2 separate regions of the Homo sapiens genome follow, and region 2 is linked to region 1. Evidence: fine-mapped expression QTL. A gene starts in region 1. The other region holds a variant in brackets. All regions are shown on one strand. Distances are from middle to middle. Region 1 holds the start of IL15RA (interleukin 15 receptor subunit alpha). Region 2 holds the start of LOC105376384 (a long non-coding RNA gene).

Evidence for each region.
Region 2: its variant is fine-mapped to the expression of IL15RA in whole blood (TOPMed, PIP above 0.99). The same link has a PIP of 0.9 or more in neutrophils.

Annotation. Positions count from the first base shown.
Region 1 is chr10:5,973,844-5,982,172 of GRCh38, forward strand. It overlaps IL15RA (interleukin 15 receptor subunit alpha), which reads right to left and starts at 3,700. Exons shown (of 7, transcript NM_002189.4): 1 at 3,562-3,700. The coding sequence starts at 3,649. LOC107984200 (a long non-coding RNA gene) reads left to right here. Exons shown (of 3, transcript XR_001747348.2): 3 at 1-221. RefSeq lists enhancers at 1,954-2,223, 2,354-2,433 and silencers at 3,324-3,703, 3,794-4,463, 7,843-8,137.
Region 2 is chr10:5,941,652-5,949,980 of GRCh38, forward strand. LOC105376384 (a long non-coding RNA gene) reads right to left here and starts at 4,263. Exons shown (of 2, transcript NR_188180.1): 1 at 4,004-4,263. It also overlaps a transcript of IL15RA not described here. RefSeq lists an enhancer at 3,464-4,022. The variant G/A (reference allele first, on the strand shown) is at 4,605.

The DNA.
Region 1 (8,329 bases):
TTCTGCTTTTCAAAAGACACTGCTAAGAGAAAGGATAAGCCACAGAATCTGAGAAAATATTTGCAAATCATATACCTGATTAGGGCCTCGTATCCAGAATATATAAAGAACTCTCAAAATTCAGTAATGATACAATTCAATTTTTTATACATAAGACAGAGTCAGAAAAAAAAAAAAAGACAGTCTCGCTCTGTGTCCCAGGCTGGAGTGCAGTGGCGCGATCTCTGCTCACCGCAACCTCTGCCTCCAGGGTTCAAGCGATTCTCCTGCCTCAGCCTCCTGAGTAGCTGACATTACAGGCATGGGCTACCACAGCTGGCTAATTTTTGTATTTTTAGTAGAGAAGGGGTTTTACCATGTTGACCTGGCTGGTCTCGAACTCCTGGCCTCAAGTGATCTGCCCGCGTTGGCCTCCCAAAGTGCTGGGATTACAGGTGTGAGCCACCACACCCAGCTGATACAATTCAATTTTTAAGAGAGCAAAAAAAATATAAACAGATACTACCAGAGAAGATATATACATGGCAAATAAGCACATAACATCACCAGCTGTAGAAAAATGCAAATTAAAACTACAAGGGGAGACCCCCTACATACCTAGTAGAATGGGTAAAATTAAAAAGATTCATCATACCAAGAGCTGACAAGGGTGTGAAGGAACTGGAACTTCCCTACACTGCTGTGGGAATGTAAAATCGTATAACAACTTTGGGAAATGGTTTAGCAGTTTCTTTAAAAATTAAACTTCTGAGGCCAGGTGCAATGGCTCACACCTGTAATCCCAGCACTTTGGGAGGCCAAAGCAGGCAGATCCCCTGAGGTCAGGAGTTCGAGACCAGCCTGGCCAACATGGTGAAACCCCATCTCTACTAAAAATACAAAAATTAGCCGGGCGTAGTGGTGCAAGCCTGTAGTCCCAGCTACTCAGGAGGCTGAGGCAGGAGAATCGCTTGAACCCAGGAGGCAGAGGTTTCAGTGAGCAGAGATGGAGCCACTGCACTTCAGTCTGGGCAACAGAGTGAGATTCTGTCTCAAAATAAGTAAATTAAAAATAAATAAAAATTAAAAATAAATAAATAAAAATTAAAAATTAAACACCTGAGAGGTCAAGGCTGCAGTGAGCTATAATCATGCTACTGCACTCCAGCTTGGGAAACAATGGTGTGACATTGTTTCAAAAAAAAAAAAATTAAACATACACCTGCCATATAACACAGCCACTCTACTCCCAACCATTCTCTACCCATGAGAAATGAAAACATGTGTCCATACAGAAACCTGTATGTCAGTGTTCATAGCAGCTTTCTTTGTAATAGTCCCAAACTGGAAACAACCCAAATGTCCCTTAACAAGTGAATGGCTAAACAAATGATGGGCTAGCCATGGGTAGAATACTACTACTCAATGGTAGAAACTAATGAACTACTTATACAAATTACAACATGGATAAATTCTCAGGATAATTACTGTCTGTGAAAAAAGCCAAACAAGAAAGAGTTCCTACCGTGTAATTCTATTTATAAAAAATTTTAGAAAGTGCATCAAATTGCCTGGGAGATGGGCGAGGTGGGAGATGAGGACTGTGCAGGGCATGAGGAAGTCTTTGGGAGTGATAGTTGTGTTCACTCTTGGTGGTGGCAGTGGTTTCATGAGTATGTATGCATTTACCTCCAAACTTATCAAAGTGTGCAACTTCAATATATGCAGTTTATTGTCGGTCAATTATACCTCAATAAGGCTGTTAAAGGGAAAAAAAACAACGGCTGGGCAAGCTGGCTCACGCCTGTAATCCCAGCACTTTGGAAGGCCGAGGCGGGCAGATCACAAGGTCAGGAGTGATCACCATGTTGGATCAGCCTGACCAACATGATGAAACCCCGTCTCTATTAAAAACACAAAAGTTACTGGGCGTGGTGGCGATCGCCTGTAATCCCAGCTACTCAGGAGGCTGAGGCAGCAGAATCGCTTGAACCCAGGAGGCGGAGGTTGCAGTGAGCTGAGATCGCGCTACTGCACCCCAGCCGGGGTGACAGAGTGAGACTCCGTCTCAAAAAAGAAAACAAGAAAGAAAGAAAAAGAAAAAGAAAAAACATTGAGAGCTTTGGGAAGGGAAGGTAGCAACATCTTTCTAAGGTCAAAGGGCAAGGCTGTGCAGCTGATGAGATCAGAGATCTCACAGTGGTGCTCCCCTATCCACTCAGTCTTCAAGGAAGACACCTCCTCTCTGCTGGGCTTTGACTAAGGCTGCATTTCACTTTCATATTGTGTAATCCAGCTGCCCCAGTTGCCAGCTATGGGGTCCTGTGACACTGCTAGCCAACTGGGAGGAACCAACCGGTCACCAACTAACTCTGCTTCTCAGATGTGGGGGGAAATCCAAGCATCAGAGTCTCATGAAAACGAAACTTCAAGAAGCCTCGCAGAGCTGGGGTGGGGGTGGCAGAGGGTGGGGGGGCGTTCAGGCCACACCAGGCAGCAGCAACTGTGCGTGGAATGGCTTTGGCCAGGGCCTGGGCAGACTGGCCCGACTGGATGTAAATTATTCAGGGTCTCGCTTAAAAACACACACAGATCATGGCGTTACTAATTCCTATAGAGAGTCCATGGATGGCCTTCAGTGGGGCTTTGACCCCAAAATCATATGCACATTTTGTAACTATGTTCATTCATGCATTTTTCTGGGGGCCGGGGGTTCATAGCTTTCATCAGACCCTCCAAGAGCTCCCTGACTATAAAAAGATAAAGAAGCGCTGACAAGGATAGAGCTAGACCCTGCTACTGTTTTCCTCCTTCCTCTGGCTGCCGGGACAAAACCCCTAGGAATCGCTCATTCCGTCCTCCCTGCCGAGATCAGAGCTCCGCGACCCGCTTTCTTCTCGAATACACCAAGCGATCACAGATCTCTTCCCCCTTTTTCTGCGAGTGTAGACTCCAGGCTGGCCCCCACTCCCCACCCCCATCCGGTCCCGACCGCCTCTGCTGGTTTCCTGATCGCTTAAGAATTGGAAGTTGTTTCCAGGTCCCCAGGTGTGCAACTTGCCCGACGCGTTTCCCCCTGGGACACAGCTCCTCCCCACCCTCCCAGCTCCCACTGACATAATTTACTTTTGCCTGGGAGTCGGGAGGAGTAGTTTCTCCCGGACCCCTCCGAGGACCGCGTGCTATGCAACACCCGCCCTGCAGTCCAGGCGCCTGGGAGAAGCGCACTCGCCCGTGTCTCCAAACTGCTGGACGCCGCCGGCTCCGCGCTCCCGTGGCCAAAACGGGCTTCTCAGAACTGCTCCTGACCTCGGCCTCGGAGACCCCAGCCAGGCCGCCCGCTCCCTTACGTGGGTGACCCGGGCGCAGCGGCGGCGCTCTCCCTGCGACCCCGGCTCCCGGCACGTGTCCCTCCTGCCCGGCGCCGCGTCCCCTCCCCGGCCTGGGCCTGCGCGCACCGCGCTCCCGAGGGCACCGACGCCCCCGCACGGCCCGGGGAGATGGGGCGCCCGGTTCCCTCCAGCTCCACGTCCCGGCCCCCTTCCAAGTCCCGCCCGGGCGCCCCTGCTCCCAGCTCCCTACCCCGCGTCGCCGGCGGCCGGAGCAGCAGCAGCAGTAGCAGCGCCGGGAGACCGAGGGTCCGGCAGCCGCGCGCCCGCCGCGGGGCCATGGCGGCAGCTCCACAGGACACCGCTGGACTCCCCGGGCGAGCGCTGCCCAGGCCGGGGGGAGGTGGCGAGCGCTGCTCTGGGACCTGCCGCCCCGCCAGTCGCATTCGCTTTCGCTTTTGCTTTGGCCCCCGAGGGCTCGGAGAGGTGCAAAGCGGTGACAGATCCGTGACTCAGCGTCCCCACCCCTGCTGGGGAAGGAGCCCCGCCGGCCGCCGCGGCACCGCACAGCCACCCCTGTCCCCGGGACGCATGGGCCGTGCCCGGTGGGGACCCAGGACCTTACCCACGCAAGCCCGGGAGCCTCCCGGTCCTCCGCGCTCGTCGTGCTCTGGGACCTCCAGTGTGCACTCGGTCCGGTGTCCCCACTGCGAAGAGAGTGGGCAAAGTCATCGGAGAGCAGACTCTCTCCAGCCCTCTCTGCGGCTCGGATCCACTTGACCTCGCCCGGCGCTGGTCGCCTCCAGCTGCTCCGCCTTCGGCTTTCCTGGTCTCCCTCCGCGGCCCTGCGCTCGGTTGTGAGCGGCCGGCCTGGGTGAGTGCCCGCGGAGGTGTCGCCGCGGTGCGGAGGCGCGGGCACCTGCCTGGTGCGCTCTGGCCCGGGCGGAGCGCAGCCCCCGCCACCTGCTGGCTCCCGCGGCCCCCGGCGCCCGCTGGGGCCCCAGCTCCGCCACTTCGCCGAATTCCTGCTGCAGCTTTGCTCCCCTAGAAAATGCCTCATCTTAGAAGGAGAGGGGGCGGAGGGGGGAGAAGGGGGAGAGGAGCCACAGTGCTTCACCTCTGAGCCTCGCTTCCTTAGGTTCTTCCAGGCTGCCATCCTCCTCTTTGGCTGGTGGGTTTTTTTCTTTCTTGGGGTCTCAAGTGAAGCCTGAGAACCGGGTCTGTAAGCTCCCAAGTGCAGATTCTCAGGTCTAGCGGTGACATTGGACAGGACGAGACATCTCCAAGCCTCGGTCATTGCCTCTTAAAATCTCACAACGTGTTTATGAGGCTTTTGTGACATACTTGCAAATTCTCTTTGAAAACGAAATAATCTGTACAATAATCCCCCAAGACACAGGTTTACCTTTATAACAAACCTGCACTTATAACCCTGAACTTAAAAGTTAAATAAAAGAATTTAGGGCCGAGCGCGGTGGCCACTCCTGAAATCCAAGCACTTTCGGAGGCCAAGGCAGGTGGATCGCCTGAAGTCAGGAATTCGAGACTAGCCTGGCCAACATGGTGAAACCCCATCTCTACTAAAAATACCAAAATTAGCTGGGCATGGTGGCGGGCGCCTGTAATCCCAGCTATTCAGGAGGCTGAGGCAGGAGAATCACTTGAACCCAGGAGGCTGAGGTTGCAGTGAGCTGAGATCGCACCACTGCACTCCAGCCTGGGCAACACAGCCAGTTCCTGTCTCTTAAATTTAAAAAAAAAAAGTAGAAAGAATAATGAACCTACCATCCGGCAGTGACCACACAAGGTCCATTCTTTTTTTCTAAGCAGGAATAGCCACCCTTACTCCAACTGGGGAAATCCCACATTATTCAATTTCTCTCAATACTTAATAATAAATCTCAAGATGATAAGATCAAATTTAAAAATTAACAATATTCCTTAATATTCTCAAATATATTGAGGGTTTATTGAATGCAGGCTAAGCATAGCATGTATACAATAGAGCATTTTTTATTCTATGGACATTTATGAAGTAGAGATTTCTCCATTATTACAGACTCTTTGTAAAAGTTTTTAATGGCTGCAAATTATCATAGTTTAACATCCCCTCTATTATTTTAATATTAAAGATAACATTGTCATAAATGTCTTTCTACAAAATCTTGTGAATTTAAGATCGCTTAGAATAGATTTCCTACAGTGGAACTATTGAGTCAACTGGTAGGGAATATTTTTAAAGGCTTTTTCTCTTTTAAACAAATATTTCTATCTTGCTTTCCAAAAGTCTTGTATCAATATACCTTCTAACTAGCATTGATTGTGTTAAAGTACCCATTTTACTGCATTCTGACCAAAAGTAAATTTTAAAATTTGAAAATAAAATTGTAAATTTGGTATGCTTAAAGAACTCTATTTCATTACATATATATACGTTGTTAAATAATGTAAATTTCAAATATACTTCGAACTATAGCAATCAATAAATATAGTGGATATCCATGAGCCTACTGCCTCATCCTGTCAAAACTTAATATGTCTGCTCAATGTTTGCTTCAGATATTTTTTGGAATAAAAAAATTACAGATAAAGTTGAAGCCCCTTTGTATTCTTGCATCTTTCTCTTCCTCCGTCTTCCACTTTCTCGCAGGTAAATGTTTCTTGAAACTGGTACTCATCATTCCCAGGCATTCTTAGGCCCCTTTTCCATGTGTATGTCCATGTGCAACGGACAGGATGGCTTACATTTTTAAAAATTCATGTGATTAAGGCTGGGTGTGGTGGCTCATGACTGTAATCCCAGCACTTTGGGAGGCTGAGGTGGGCAGATCACTTGAGGTCAGGAGTTCGAGACCAGCCTGGCCTACATGGTGAAACCCCATCTCTACTAAAAATACAAAAATTAGCAGGGTGTGGTGGCACGCACCTGTAATCTCATCTACTTGGGAGGCTGAGGCATGAGAATCGCTTGAACCTGGGAGGTGGAGGATGCAGTGAGCTGAGATCACACCACTGCACTCTAGCCTGGGCGACAGAAAGAGACTCGGTCTCAAAAAAAAAAAAAAAAAATTCATATGAACAGTACCATACAGATTGAGCACCCCTGATCTCCAAATCCCAAATCCAAAATGGTCCAAAATCCAAAACTTTTTGAGCTCTGACATTACGCCACAAGTGGAAAATTCCACACCTGATCTCGTGGGGTGGGTGGCAATCAAAACACAGGCACATAACACACTGTTTATTCAGCATCCCCAAGGGGAAAAAAGACTCTCCCAGCCGCCTTCAGCTGAGAGATATCTTTTCTGTGCATGCCCAGATTCCCCCATGCAAGCACGCACACAAAAGGTGGTAAAATGGCCTGTGTGCAGGTCGAACACACCCATGGTAGGTCCCGACAATTCCCCATATGGAGCCAAGCCCCGCCTCTGTGCACTTCTCACTGTGCTATTTTTGCTTATTCTCTGCTCTCTGGTCTAATGATGTTGAAAATGTTGGCCGGGTGCAGTGGCTCACGTCTGTAATCCCAGCACTTTGGGAGGCCAAGGTGGGTGGATCACTTGAGCTCAGGAGTTCGAGACCAGCCTGGGCAACACAGCACACCTATAGGTGTGCACCACCACACCTGGCTGATATTTATTTATTTCTAGAGATGAGGTCTCACTATGTTGCCAAGGCTGGTCTCACACTCCTGGCCTCAAGCCATCCTCCCACCTCAGCTTCCTGAGTAGCTGAGATTACATGTATAATCAGGGACATCTTTTCTGATTAGTCTCACAAACATTTTGGACCAGTGGCTTGTGTCACTGTAGGGAGGGTGGACTGGATGATGACTGCAAGATTTTGTTTTTCTTTGACAACCATTCTGCTCATCCTCCAGCTGAAACTCTCATTAAAAATAATGTTTATGCCATGGGCTTTCTTCCAAATGTGACTTCATTACTTCAGCCATGTGACCAGGGTATCCTTAGATCAATGGAGATCAATGGAGAGTAAATATGGAAACATTGCACGCTAGCAGCAGTGAACAGAGGGGTGGGTGTGGAAGTTTTCAAAAGGTGTTTAGCATGAAGGATGCCAATGCTGTTTCCAATGCTTGGAACTCAGTGACTAACGACACAGCCATGCGTGCATGGCACAACCTCTGGTCTGCGACTATGTTCAGTGATGATGATGAACAAGGTGATGACATGGAAGTATTCCATATGTGAAGTGGGAAAAAAATGATGTCTGACCTCCCTATGCAGGCAAAAAATATACCTTCAGAGTGTGTCAGCATGCTGGACGAAGTGGATATACAGGTTTTTAACATCTATACTGTGGCTCCAGTTGTTCGTTCATTGACCGATGATGAACAATGGCAAAACGGTTCTGAACCAAGGTGCTTGTGCTAACAGTGATGACGAACATAATGCTGTTATCACAGCAGAACACGCACCTGCAGGCGCCATGATGAAAGCATGCGATGGGCTCATTGAAGGACTAGAACGGTGGGTGTTCGAGGCAGGGTAAGCAAGATGAGGACCCTGTACCAACTTGTCCCCTTGTGCGAAGCCCTGAAGGACCCTTTTGCAGAGTCTTCTTTTGCTTGCAACTCTCCTGCGTCAGCACCTAGTGCTTTTGCAAGATAAGCTGCCCTACAAGATACCAGCAGATGGCCAGATGGTTACAAGTTGCTGCTGCCTGATTCGGCCCAGAAAAGAGAACAAAAGCCCCTTTCTCATGATGTAGCTTCTCCAATCTCCAGCCAGTCTGCACCAAAAGCCCAAGAAGCTATTAGCTACGAACTCCTGCCTTGGGGGTAGGAACTTCTCCAGGGTTCTGCACGTGCTCTAGGCTCAAGGTTTAGCTTATAGTGAACTTTTCCTTTTTTTTTTTTTTTTTTTTTGAGGCAGGGTCTCACTATGTTGCCCTGGCTGGAGTGCAGTGGCGTGATTCCATCTCACTACAGCCTTGAGCTCCCAGGCTCAGGTGATCCTTCCGCCTCAGCTTCCTGAGTAGCTGGGATTAAAGGCGCCTGC
Region 2 (8,329 bases), 32 kb before region 1:
CACCATCCTTTTAGCTGGTATTTTTCCTTTAGCAGCCCAGGCATGAGGGCAGAGACGTCGCATGGTGGACTCAGACACAGCTTAATAAACTTAAGGCAGTGCAGCACCCCCGTGGGACCTTCCTGCCTGGGAAGCTGGTCACTGTCACGCTGCCTGCCCAGCTTCCGTCCTGTAGTGGCATTTGGTCTGTGTCTGGGAGCAACTCACTGTATCACAAAGGGACTTTGACACCCCTAGAATCAGACTATTAGCAATTTAACATGTTTTTCAAGTCTGATCCTTGCCCTTCAGTCCTTCCTAGTCACCCTGAACCCCTGGCTTTAGCAATGTGGGGTACACCGAGAGCCTGGAAGCTGATCACTCTACATTTGCAGTGAGTGGGTGCGGTAGAGACGTCTGAACCGAGGCAGGCAGGGTTCCTCCAGCTCCTTGCCCAGACATGAAGACAGTGCTACACGCACGCCCCTGGCCAAGGCACCTCTGCACAGCTGGGCTGGTGTGGGGGGCAGGGCTCCCTTAGCCGGCAGGGGCTCTCCCTCTGCCTGGCCTACTTAAGGGACAGGTTCTCCATGAGGGCCCAGGAGGTGCCGTCCCCTGCGATCCTCCTCACTGGGGACCTGTGTGTGTTTTATCCCTAGTGGCGTGGGCTGAGAGGTAGGTTAGGTGGAGGGAGGGGGGCTTCCCACTCAAACGCCAAGGTCGCCAGTCGATCACTCCATTTGCTGTCTTCGTGACATCTCAGCCCTGCCATGTCCCACATGCAGCCCCTGATTTCCTTCCGAGCCTGGCTGGCTCCTCCACGCACCCTTCCCCACCTCCAGAAACAGCACCACCATCGGGCTGTGATACTTTTCTTCATGCCAGTTCACTGGGAAGCTCCACGCGGCCTCCAGGGTGCACCACCCACCCGCCCGCGACCCTCCACCGTTCTGCCTCCTGGACCAGTTGTAGTCTATGTTGCTCTGTGCCTCTGCCCTGGCCCAACTCGCTCCCATGTAGAGGGACCTGCAATCTTACAATGAAGACTAACGCCGGTCACCCTCCTGCCTCAACCCTGCAGGGCTCTCCTGTTGCGATGAGGGCGTCAGCCCAAGTTGGACCGCAGCGGAAAGGCTGGCGTTTCCTGTCCATTTCCAGGCTGGCCTCTGTCACCCTAAGCCTGTCTTTTAAAGGAACTCACTGAGGGCCCCAGGAAGCGGCCAGCACAGTGCTGACATCCTGGATTTTTCTTTTCTTCCTTTTTTAAATGTACAATTCAGTGGTTCTGATTTTTTTTTCTTTTCTTTTTTTTTTTTTTTTTTGAGACAGAGCCTCACTCTGTCACCCAGCCTGGAGTGCAGTGGTGAGATCTCCGCTCACTGCAACCTCTGCCTCCCGGGTTCAAGCGATTCTCCTGTCTCAGCCTCCCAAGTAGCTGGAATTACAAGCATATGTGACCACAACCAGCTAATTTTTGTATTTTTGGTAGAGACGGGGTTTCACCATGTCGGCCAGGCTGGTCTTGAACTCCTGACCTCAGGTGATCCACCTGCCTCAGCCTCCCAAAGTGCTGGGATTACAGGCGTGAGCCACTATGCCTGGCCTGAATTTTTTATTTTTTTTAAAGTAATCATTTTCCTAATACATGTCTTCCTAATCTGGACCCCACAGATTAAGAAATGCTTTAGTTTTTAATACCCATGGTATATTCTACTACCACTATGTGAAGAGTTGCAGTTAGAACTCTTCCAAAAGATCACATTAAAAAAAAAAATAGCATCAGCCTTTGGAGTCCAGGATGAACAATAAAATAAAAAATAAGTAGCATGGAGGTCACATGGAGAGAGCTTCACCAAGAATTGGCGACACCTGGTGACAGGTAACACTTTAATCAGCCTCACACACACATAATGGGGTCGGTCCCGCGTCCTCAGCCAGCTCCACGTATTTTAGAGTCTCTTACAACATCCCCACTTAATTGGCTGTGAGTGGCCCCAGAGCAAGGCTCTCAGGGGCGGGAAGCAGAAAGTGCTGATTCCACGGGCGTGCGGAGGAGGCTGGTGGCAGGGGCTCGGCTCAGCTGCTCCCAGGCATTCCTTCCTCCCCTGCTCATGTTCGGTGCCTCAGCGTCGCCGGGCAGGCTTCTCTTGGCCAGCCACCTGCAGGGCAGTGTCACGGGAGGCAAGGGAAGGGTAGGCTGGTCTTCTGTGTCTCTTAGGAGTGTGGCAGGCCGGGTCTCTCTTAGCAACCAGAGCAGCCAGCCTCACCAACACCTTACTATAACTCTGAGGAATATATAAATTAAACGAGGAAAATTGGAGAAACTGGTGCCTTAATACAAAGGCTAGAGTGTAAAAACAAGTCGATTAAGACCCCACCTGGGCTTTCTCCCAGACCTTAGAGTTTAATTAAAATAATGGAGGCGTTCTTGTGGACCTTGTACCATGATCCACTTTAAATTAAGTAATTGGGCCAGGAGCAGCGGCTCACGCCCGCAATCCCAGCACTTTGGGAGGCTGAGGGAGGAGGGTCGCTTGAGCCCAGGAGTTCAAGACCAGCCTGGGCAACATAGTGAGACCCTCCCTCTAAAATAAGAAAGAAAAAAAATGAAGTAATTGTTTCAAGGCTCTGAAGTAATTTTCCAGACCCCAGACCCTAGTGAAAGATTAAACAGAGGAATATACTTCAGCTTGGAGGTGTACTCCTGCACATAGGCATATGGTTTAAATGTGTATAAGCACTGAAAAAAAACTTATAATTTTAAATTAGTCTGGTGAGTTACTCTGACCTTCTCCCTGTAACCAGAAATAAACTCCCTTCTTCCCCACTCTGTCTGCAGCTTGTTATTGGACCATGAGAACAAGCAGCTGGACCTGGTTTTGTCTGGGAAGAGGCGCAAGAAAGCCTTTCCCACAGGCTTCTCCAGCTGACTCACATATTGTTGGTCAGAACTGGGCTACCTGCCCACTCCTAAGCCAATCATAGTAAGGAAGAATGGCTTCAAATCATCAGGGTTTTATTTCCTGGAGCTTGGGATGAGGTCAGCTTTCCATGATGCACACGGCTGGGTGAAATAATAAATCCTAAAAAAGTGGGAATGTATTTGCGAAGGAAGGGGCAGGTGCTGATTACCATGTAAGTAAATATACCTCATTAAGGAAGTGAACTCAACGTTTATTAGGAGCCTCCTGCAGGTAGACGCTATCAGGCCTTTGTGTATGTGAATTCCTTCAGTCCTCACAGCAAACCTGGGAGGCAGATGACAGCCGCCATTTGCAGATGAAGAAACAGGCTCTAAAGAGTCACGGGGCTGGGCCCACTGTGCTCAGTATCACAGAGCAGAGCTTGGATGAAAACTCAAGTTCAATCCCAAACCCATAGTATTTCCACTACCACTGTGTGAAGAGTTGGAGTTAGAACTCTTCCAAAAGATCAGTTTGTTTGTTTTTTTAAAGCATCTGCCTATGGAGTCCAGGATGAACAATAAAATAAATATTTAATAGCATGGAAGGCTTTCAGATGTTCTTAGCCATGGAATTCTTTAGGCTTAATTTTACTTCCAGTTAACAAATGCAGCCGCTGTGGTCACTCAGGAGGGGGATGGGCACCCAGAGTTCCTTCTCCGCTCCCGCCTGTGGTGGCCCCTCAGGTGCCTCTGCAGCCACCAGGGCTTCCCAGAACACTTGGAAAACACCTGCAGCCACTGCAGCCCCGGGACACTGACAGCAATTTGAGTACCCTCTGGGTGGCATTAACTCCAAGGAGATTTTGAAGATTACACCCCATTTTTGAATTATTTTGGAGACAAGAGTCCCACTCTGTCGCCCAGGCTGGAGCGCAGTGACGCGATCACCGCTCACTGCAGCCTCATGCTCCTGGGCTCAAGCGATCCTCCCACCTCAGATTCCTGAGTAGCTGGGACCCTAGGTGAGCCATGGCACCCAGTTATACACTTCTGTAACTAGGACTGTTGGCTCTCTGCCCAGAGGAATGAAGACACAGCTTCAGAAAGAGAAGCACTAACCTTCATGGTGAGGGCGTCCACCAGGAGGGAGTGGTTTTGCCAAGCGGGGACTTGAGGCAGACGGCCCAAGTTTCACCAACTGTGTTCAATCCTACGGGACCCTTGCTCTTTTTCAGTTTCATTTTCCTTCCAGTTACTGAGCAGCCCTCCCAGGACCCGAGGATGCAGGGCATGCAGGGGCGGCGCAGTGCTTCCCCGGCCAACCCCTGCCTTGCCGTCCGGTTGACCTGGCTGCCCAGCAGCCATGCTCTGTCTTTCCTGAACGTGTTGCTCAATTTCCTGTTTGGGTTTTTGCCTCCACCGCCCCCCCCCACCATTTAGAATGCTCCCTGCCCGTTTATTTAAATTCCACCCATCCTTCCAACTCACATCCTGCATTCCTCAAGCTTCCAGGCCTTGGAGCCATTTCTGCCTTTACTGGGCTCGTGTCCCATTAGTGTGTGTGCTTGTGGTGTAAGGTTTTGTTTCATATTTGTTCCGGTATGCTTCTCTTTTTGACCAGGCTGTAAACTTCTTGAGGATTAGTACCAGGCTTAACTGTCAGGATCTCTAGTGGCTAGCGAGGGGAGAGACAGACGCCAGGGTCTCCTGTGACCCTCAC[G/A]CCTCTGGGAAGGGAGTGCATGTGCCGTCATCCCCACTACAAAGATGAGGCAATGTCCGTGTGTGTAGTGTCTCCAAGTGACAGGGCCAGCAAAGGGTAGAATGGATGCTCAGCAAAGGGTAGAATGGATGCTCGACACTCAGGCTTTTAAGTTCTATCTTCTTTCCACTGCACAAAGATAGTATTTTGCAGATGCCACATGAATAGCACCGATAATAAGTGTTATGAAGGCTCAGAGGCAAATGATTTTGTACAACTGAGTCATTAGCCAAGGCTCCGGGGCTGGGCATGGTGGCTCACGCCTGTAGTCCCAGCACTATGGGAGGCCAAGGCGGGTGGATCACTTGAGATCAGGAGTTCCAGATCAGCCTGGACAACATGGCGAAACCCTGTCTCTATCAAAAATATAAAAATTAGCTGGGCATGGTGGCACGCACCTGTAGTCCCAGCTACTCAGGAAGCTGAGGCAGGAGAATCGCTTGAACTCGGGAGGCGGAGGTTGCAGTGAGTGGAGATCGTGCCACTGCACTCCAGCCTGAGCGACAGAGCGAGACTCTGTCTCAAAAAAAAAAACCCTCCAAAACTGAAACAACAGAGGCTCCTGGAGAAGGTAAACTTGATCTGGTTCTGGAAGGTGAGTTGGATGTAGGAGACTGTGAAGGAAGGACAGGGGCATTGGGCATTGGCTACGGGCTTGGCCTGTGAGGAGGCCGCAGGTGGGACGTGGGGGTGGAGGTGCTTGCAGCAGGGCCCGGCCCAGCCTTGGGGAGCTCTTGTTTCCACGGAACAGGCTGATTCCTGGGATCCTGAGGGTCTGATTGGGATTCTCAGCAAAGTTTTCTCCCCATGCAGAATGGGACAGGGGGAGGAAATTGTCAGCAGAACAGACTTCCTTTTGCAAGATGCCCCCCTCGAGCAGGAGGCAATGTTGCAGCATTGTCAGGCAGAACAGAGGGCTGCTTCTGAGGACAAGGGAGGGTGGGGGATCCTGTGAGTCCTCCAAATGTCCCCCTACATTTTTAATCCAGTACAGGAACCTCGCCCTTCTCCAATCAGTGCTCTCCCTTCAGCTGGGAAACCTGCTGGGGCCATGGATTCAGCTAATGTTCTTCCAACAACTTGACGGCTTAGACTGTTGTTTTTTTTTGGAGACTGTGTCTCCTCTGTCATCCAGGCTGGAGTGCTGTGGCATGATCTCGGCTCACTGCTACCTCCTGGGCTCAAGCAGTTCTCCCACCTCAGCCTCTTGAGTAGCTGGGACTACAGGCACATGCCACCACAACTGGCTAATTTTTGTATTTTTTGTAGAGACAGGGGTTTCGCCATGTTGTTTGGGCTGGTCTTGAACTCCTGGACTCAAGCGATCCACCTGCCTCGGCCTCCCAAAGTGTTTGGATTACAGGCATGAGCCACGGCGCCCAGCCAAAGGCTCAGACTCTTAAGATGGGTTTTCAGATATCCTGGCCTCGCATCTGTAAGGAATGAAATTCCGCGTTGTTCTAGGCAGTCTTTAGGTTTCAGCCTGTGGCTTGAATTCAGACTTTAGAGATTTGAACTTCTTATTCTCTAAGTTTTTCAGTGACATTAAAAGCAGCTACCCACTATGGGCTCAGATTTCTCATATCCATACGATTTCAGGATGGACGCAACATAGTCTCTGAGAGCCAGGCTTGCAGCAGGCATGACATCCCAGGCACCTCCTGGCGAACTAATTACCGAATTCCCTGGGCCGCTCCATTCCTGTCTCTGCATATCATCAGAACATTCACTCTTTTCTCTCGTCCCTAAGGCAGATAACCAGCCGCAGACACTCCTTATCTCCCCTCTTCTCCATAATTTGCAATACCCACTCCTGGTACCGAATTTCATATCAGCTAGGAACTTTTCAGTGACAAGTAATGAAAACAGAATCTGTTATAAAGAAAAAAAAATGTATTGGAAAGATACGAGGGGCTCATAGAATCCCGGAAAATGGGAGGCTTAGGTTTGGAATATGGTTAGGACCTAAAGACGCCTGGAGAGCCCAGAACAGGAGGCCCAGCAGCCAGTCAGAGCTTCTGAGGCCACTGCTGGCCACTGCCCTGTGAGTTCTGTGCTCTTCATTCTCTGTATTCAACAGCTTTGTAGTCTAGCTGAGAGGCCCTGGAGGCCACGCCCAGGCCAGGTGCCCACGCGTGGGGAGAGCAGGGAGAGGGGAGGTCAGCCCGTCTGTGTCAGTGGGTGATGAGGCACCCCAACAGGATGGAGGAGCCCCAGTGGAATTCTGCATTCCCATTCTTTCTCCTCCTTTGTGTGGAACATTTCTCCTTGGTGATTTTTTTTTTTTTTTTGAATTGGAGTCTCGCTGCGTCTCTCAGGCTGGAGTGCAGGGGTATGATCTCGGCTCACTGCAACCTCCACCCCCAGAGTTCAAGTGATTCTCCTGCCTCAGCCTCCCAAATAGCTGGGATTACAGACGCTCACCACCACGCCAGGCTAATTTTTGTGTTTTTAGTAGAGATGGGGTTTCACCATGTTGGCCAGGCTGGTCTCAATTTCCTGACCTCAGGTGATCCACCCGCCTCGGCCTCCCAAAGTACTGGGATTACAGGCATGAGCCACCCTGCCCGGCCATCCTTGGTGATTCTTTTAATGCATTTTAAAATATTGAAAATATATATTTTATTTTGTTTATACAAGGCACAATGTCAAAATACAAATCATATATAATGTGTAGATATAACAGACAAGGAAGTATAAATGCATATATATGTAAAATGGCGCTGAGATGAGTTTTCTTCTTCCTGAATCCTTCGATGGAGAGGATTCACTGGGCTTAGCATCTCCTCCACCTTTTCCGGCTCCCTGTCAGTGCGTGCAGCACAGCTGGAGACAGGGTCATTGGGAGGAGCCCAAACGCTGGTGTCTTCCCTATAGACATCTCCCACGCCAGGAGGAGCCTTGTAATTGACAGAGAGCCTCAGGTATGTCACTTTTCTCTGTGAGCTGCAAGTCAGGATGAGGGACGGACGGTTTCAGGAGAGGAGGAGGTGTTTCATCCTGAATAGCTAAGAACAGCACCACTAGAATGGGTGGATTTACAGTCACTTAGGGAAGTAAAGTGTCAATTAAATCCCCCGGTAATATAGTGCCTAATATTACCTAAAATATGCACACATTGAGTTCTGATTAGTGCCTAGCAGTGTGAGGTGGGGGAGGCTGTGATTTGGGTCGGGCTGGTCCTGCCTGCAAGGAGCACAGCCCTGGGGTGAGACAAACCCGCAGTACTCGGGGAGTCCGCTCTGTGCTGTGAAATTCCAAGCCAGGAGGTGGCAGCCTCAGCCAAGAGGAAGAAGTCCTTGGGGAACAGGGGGGTGAGCAGTGAGAAACAGGGTGTCTTTTGATCCCTGCTCTCCCACTTCCTAATGTCTGAAGAAGGGTTTAAACGGGGAAAGTCACACCACAAGATATATTTTAAAAAGTTAGGCAGGAAGAAAATGGAAATCTGCATCTATACAAGGGAATAAAGAACGTAAGTGGTTTTAAAAAAGTGGTGGGGGGAGTTAAGAGTCTTATTTCTTGCCAGGCACGGTGGCTCAAGCCTGTAATCCCAGCACTTTGGAGGCTGAGGCGGTTGGATCACCTGAGGTCAGGAGTTCGAGACCAGCCTGGCCAACATGGTGAAACACTGTCTCTGCCAAAAATACAAAAATTAGCCAGGTGTGGTGGTGTACGCTTGTAATCCC